2 separate regions of the Homo sapiens genome follow, and region 2 is linked to region 1. The links come from fine-mapping of genetic effects on gene expression. A gene starts in region 1. The other region holds a variant in brackets. All regions are shown on one strand. Distances are from middle to middle. Region 1 holds the start of GDPGP1 (GDP-D-glucose phosphorylase 1). Region 2 has its middle 26 kb from the start of SV2B.

The links. PIP is the estimated chance that this variant, and not a neighbour inherited with it, causes the effect.
Region 2: its variant is fine-mapped to the expression of GDPGP1 in pancreas (GTEx, PIP 0.99).

Annotation. Positions count from the first base shown.
Region 1 is chr15:90,232,623-90,235,530 of GRCh38, forward strand. It overlaps GDPGP1 (GDP-D-glucose phosphorylase 1), which reads left to right and starts at 1,587. Exons shown (of 4, transcript NM_001013657.3): 1 at 1,587-1,670; 2 at 1,900-1,974. CIB1 (calcium and integrin binding 1) reads right to left here and starts at 1,319. Exons shown (of 7, transcript NM_006384.4): 1 at 1,213-1,319; 2 at 1,047-1,081. The coding sequence starts at 1,263. RefSeq lists silencers at 812-1,261, 1,282-1,721.
Region 2 is chr15:91,073,115-91,076,022 of GRCh38, forward strand. No RefSeq gene overlaps it. Among named protein-coding and RNA genes, the nearest start is that of SV2B, 26 kb to the right of the region's middle. The variant C/T (reference allele first, on the strand shown) is at 1,456.

The DNA of each region.
Region 1 (2,908 bases):
TTGGCCAGGCACGGTGGCTCACACCTGTAATCCCAGCACTTTGGGAGGCCAAGGCGGGCGGAGCTTTGGAGGTCAGGCGTCTGAGACCAGTCTGAGCAACATGGTGAACCCCTTCTCTACTAAAAATACAAAAATTAGCCGGGCATGGTGGCGGGTGCCTATAATCCCAGCTACTCAGGAGGCTGAGGCAGGAGAATCACTTGAACCCGGAGGCAGGAGAATCACTTGAACCCGGAGGCAGAGCCTGCAGTGAGCCAAGATCGTGCCCCAGCACTCCAGCCTGGGCGACAGAGCGAGACGCTGTCTCAAAAAAAAAAAAACGGAGAAAAGAGCAAAACCAAAAATCTCATTCTCACCTTCACTCCAGGGATCTCTTACCCTCAAAGCCTCCTTTTTAGCAACCACACTGAACTGTCCTCCTCGGCCTCCACCTCCTTCCCATGAGCTTATCTTTGCCACAGGAACCTGGCCTGCATAAATCCGGCAAAAGGGCTTCCAGCCCAAGTTCAAATCTACTTACTCAGAGTGTTGTCTTAAGCAGTTACCAAACCTTTCTGAACCTGTTTCATTGTCCAGTACCTCTCTCCTAAAGATTAAATTAGGTAACGCAGGCAACCATTTAGCACAGTCCCTGGCACATGGTGAGTGCTCAGAAAGCGATAACGGTTACTGTATTATTCAGGTAAAGTTGGGAGAAGGAGCCGGGCTCCCCAAGGCTTCTGTGGTTTAGCCACTGGGCAAGGTCGGCCCCTGCCGGACTGGGGCAGGAAGTTCGGCAGTGCTGAAGCTAGTGGAGCCCAGGGTCAAAGAGCGCCTAACTTTTCCTGGAGGCTGTAAGGTGGCTCCGCGGTGCCACGCTGGGGCCTCAGGCGAGGGCGGGGAGGGCGTGCCGGGAGGAGGGCGCAGCCCGGGCTAGGTCTCCCGGCCTCCAGCTCCCGCTCCTCTGCAGACCTCAGGCCAGCCCCCGCCCCTCCCTCGGGACAGCGCCCCCGAAGCTGTCTCTAGAGGATCCCGGGGTCGGAGGCAGGGTTCAAGGCAGCACTTACAGGAGGATCTCCTGCTTCGTCAGGAACGTCAAGTCCTGGAAGGCAAAGCCAGAGCGGGGATTAGCGGACCGCTGGGAGGCCGCGGCCGCCCCGCAGCCAGCTCCCGGACCCTGCTCCCGAGAAGAGGCCCGCACGCGAGCTCCCCAGGGCCAGGCGTCCCGCGCACCTGGTACTCGGCCAGCAGCTCCTTGGACAGGCGACTGCCCGAGCCCCCCATCGCCCCGCCGCGCGCACAGCTCCGCCAACTCGCCTCGAGACGCAGACAACTTTCTCACTTCCGCCCTTGGGCCGCGTCACTGCCCGGTCCCCGCGGCAACCGCTCCTGGGGCCACCACCCCCGGGCCCGCCCCCTCCTAAAAGCTGCCAGGCGTTCCCAGCCGGGTTTGGCAGGCGAGCTGCCGGCTCCAAGCGGTCCTAGGCGAGCTGGAGGCGGGGCCCGGGGAGGGGCCCGACGCTCCGGGGCGGAGCCCGGGACTCACGGCCCCGCCTCCGGGGTGGGAGGGGGGGGCGGGCCACGCCGCGCGCGTGCGTGCTGGCTGCGTATGCGTCACGGGCGTCATGACCTCGCTGTGGCCCCGGCAGCGGCTGCGGGGAAAGTCGCGAGGTGCATCCGCTTCGGCTGCAGTAGGTGGTGGCGGCGGCAGCCCTGGGTGGGGTCCCATAGGGGCATCTGAGAAGTCACTGGAGCTAGCGTTTCCGGGAAACCTGGAGACTCGCTGAGTGGCGGGGGTCGTCGGCTGCCCCTCTGCCCAGCAAGGGCTTTTCTAGATGTTATCATCAGGCAATCGCTGCACCTGTCGCAGCCCCCAAGCCACCTCTTCCAGAAGTAACCATAACCTTGCTTCCTTCTTAGGCTATTTACTGAGGACCCACTGGATGTCAAGCATTGTGCATAGTTTTCTTCGATTGTTGCAACATCCCTTGCGAGGTAGGTTCCCATTTTACAAAGATGGAAATACGTAAGTCCAAAGGGTGTTAGTGATTTTTCCGGGCGCCGGCATTTAGAAGGTAATCGGTCCAGTCCAAGGCACTTTTAAAGGCTCTCCACTGCTGTTCTCATCATTCCAGCTGACCTGCCGTCCTTTTGACTCCATCTCACCCCTAGACTGCTGACCCTTTGCTCTTGTCCCCTCTTAACCTCTAGGATAATGTTTGGCACATAGTAGGCTCTCAGTAAATATTATCGAATGCATAATAAATGAATGAACGTATACTATTGCAAAAGGTAAGGATTCCAAACTGCTGGGAGGAGGAAGTGGAGGTTGTGTTGGTCAGGCTGGGATTAATTCTTGATCCTTCCAATCCATTATACTTGCTGATCTTTGTAAAGTCTAAATCTGAGTATGTTAGTCTCAGTTTATAACCATTAAATGGTTAAAAACCCAAATCCTGGCCCTCTGTAACTGGACTTCCTCCTATTGGCTCTCTGTCTTTCAGCCACTTTGGGCCCTCAGTCCCTCTTCCATCTCATCCTCAGGGAAGCCTTTCCTGACTCCCTAGACTGCCTAGGAATCTACTTTACACTGGAAGAATACCCAGTGCTCTCCTTGGCAGCATGTGTTTGATAAGACACACTGTATTAACAGGTACATTCCATCATTGTAGAAATATTCAAGGCCAGGCGCGGTGGCTCATGCCTGTAATCTCAGCACTTTGGGAGGCTGAAGCAGGCGGATCATTTGAGGCCAGGAGTTCAAGACCAGCATGGCCAACATGGCAAAACCCCATCTCTACTAAAAATACAAAAATTAGCCAGACATGGTTAAACCTGGGAGCTGGAGGTTGCAGTGAGCGGAGATTGTGCCACTGCAGTCCAGCCTGGGCAACAGAGTGAGACTCTGTCTCAAAAAATAAAAATAAAA
Region 2 (2,908 bases), 840 kb after region 1:
CACTTTCCTAGGCAGCTCTGTGAACTTGTTAGCCCAAATGCATTGCTTCTCTAACCCTCTGAGTCTGCATCTGTTAAACAAGGGCTTGGCTCAGATCCTCTCTGTCTTGTCTTGTCCATCGCTGAAATTCTGTGATCTGATATTTACATATGCTCTGCATGGTTATCTGACTAGTTCCATCCTAGCCAGGCTGGCCAGTTCCAGTAAGTCCCTGTACATCCAGACTAACTGTGAATAGTATTCATTGAGTATTTACTCTGTCCAGTTATGCCCTGCAGATCAGGAGAATGATTTATTTGATTTATATCTAGTAAGTGTCATAGTTGGCAAATAGCAGGGCATTATTTTTTGGGAATTAAAAAGGATTACATAGCTTCTTGAGTAATCAGGTTTTTTTTCTGTTGTTGTGTTTTTTTGTTTTGTTTTTGGTTTTTTTTGACAGGTTTTGCTCTGTCATCCAAGGTGGAGAGTAGTGTCATGATCATGATCAGGGCTTACTGCAGCCTCGAACTCCTGGACTCAAGTGGTCCTCCCGCCTTGGCCTCCCAAAGTGCAGGATTATAGGCATGAGCCACTCTGAAAGACCCAGGGTCTTTTTTGTTGTTGGGTATTGAAGTTATTTCCTTCAATAGTTTTTTTTTGTGTAATGCATTTTTAATATAGCTTCTTTTTCTGATTTTATGGGTACAGGGCAATTGCATTATAAATGTACTCAACGTAAGCAAAGTCAGCTAAATGTATGTGATTCCAGGGTTTAAAGATGCTTATTTTTCATACAGCATGAACTTTAAATGCAAGCTGACTACCTCATCTAGTGCTTAGCTAAAGAAACAGCTATCTGTTCCAGTGCAACAGGAATTACTGGTTGGGTTGATTAAATATGTGTCTGAGTACCATATATAGTAGACAATTAAATGAATTTGACATTGACTATACATAATTTTTCACATTACAAACTGTCATTGGAAATGAATCCTGGCATAAAATACATTTCTATTGTAATATATGTTCATAGCAGAAAATTTGAAAAAATATAGCAGAAGATAAAAGTCATCCCTCATCCCTCTATATGGAGATAATTGTAATGATTATTAAGGGTGTATGTCTCTTCAATACTTAATTCTATGCAAATATTTATGTGGTAGGATACAACTTTGAGATCCTATCCTAGGTCCTCGCCCCCTACCTCATTCCCTTGTGCTCTGTCCTGTGGCATTTCTAACAGTCCCACCCGTAGGCCCACCCCATCACTTCTTAAAGGTTCAACATTGCCTTTTGGTGCTTATATCAGAATTAAAAGCGTTGAAAGTCAAGCTCTGGGATGTGAATATTCTGAAAGTCCATGTCCTGAATAATTAAGTGCATAAAATTGAATGAGGTAAACAAGAAGGGAAGGCCAGGCGCGGTGGCTTACGCCTGTAATCCCAGCACTTTGGGAGGCCGAGGTGGGTGGAT[C/T]GCTTGAGGTCAGGAGTTTGAGACCAGCCTGACCAACATGGTGAAACTCTGTCTCTACTAAAAATACAAAAAAACTTAGCCGAGTGTGGTGGCGCGTGCCTGTAGTCCCAGCTACTCATGAGGCTGAGGTGTGAGAATCACTTGAACCTTGGAGGTGGACATTGCAGAGAGCTGAGATCACGCCACTGCACTACAGCCTGGGCAACAAGAGCAAGGCTCTGTCTCAAAAACAACAACGACAACAACAACAACAACAAAACAAAAACAAGAAACCAAACGAAACCAAAACAAAACAAGAAGGAAAGTGGAGCCAGGTCCCCATCTCCTAGGGGAGATGAAGAATCTCCTTATGGGGAAAGTCATGTGGGGGGAATGGAAGGCACAGAACACTTGCCTAGAGAAAGAAATTGGTGGGTTTAAGGGGAACTATGTAGACCCACCTGAGGGGACCAGTACTGAGTTGCCTCTGACTGAGTGAGCACCATCTGTTGCTGGCAATGAGAGCCCCAGGGGAGCTGCCACAGGCCCCATTGCCCGCTTGCCCAGTGTAGGTAAGCGTTTGTATTACTGGTGCTGGGGAACTAAGTCTGCAGTTCCCTCCCTGCCACTGTGCTAGGAGTGCCCATGGAGGCCAGCCAGTGAGTCTCTGGCACATGGACCAACTGACACAAGTGTTGGCCCTCCGTTCCCTGAGATGCTGCTGCAAATTACTTTGTGTGGCCAGTGCCTCTCTTGAAAGGTCAAGTACACTTGTGAGCCCATACACTACCTGGATGGGCAGTGGTGAGGTCACAAGGAAAGAGCCAGCTTTGGTACTTTGGTGGAACTGTGTGAAATCAGCTCTCTGGAGCACACACCTCACCTTTTAGACATTCCAAATTGGGATCATACTGTATGGCCTATTTGGAGACCCTGTTTTTCCACTTTATATTCTATCATGTACTTTACCCTCATGATGAAATAGTCTCCCAGAGTGATTTTAATGGTTTCAGAATATCCCATCACGTGAAAGGTACCATGATTTACTTTAAAAATCCCCTCTTGTTGGACTTTAAAATGATTTCTAGTATTTTGCTGCTACTAATAATGCAACAATGACCTTCATTGTCCTAAATCTTTGTGACTGTCTCTGAATTAAAAAAAAAATGCTTAAAATATGGCAGGCGATCACAAGATAACCATGGTGATCATGATTGTCTGGGTTTTGGCTTAATTTTCTAGGATTATTGGCAGCTGTTGAAGCAGCTGAGGCCCCACCTGCTTTGCAGATGGGCAAGGCCTGCAGAGGCTCTGAATCGAATTAACACACTGGTTGGAGAAAGAAAGGCAAACATAGGAATATAAAATTGCCATGGAAACATGCTTCCTGGCTAAATACACATCTTGGTATCTAACCCATATCTCAGAGTCTATGATGACTTGCATATATGAAATGAGGTCCTGCTTTGAGCTC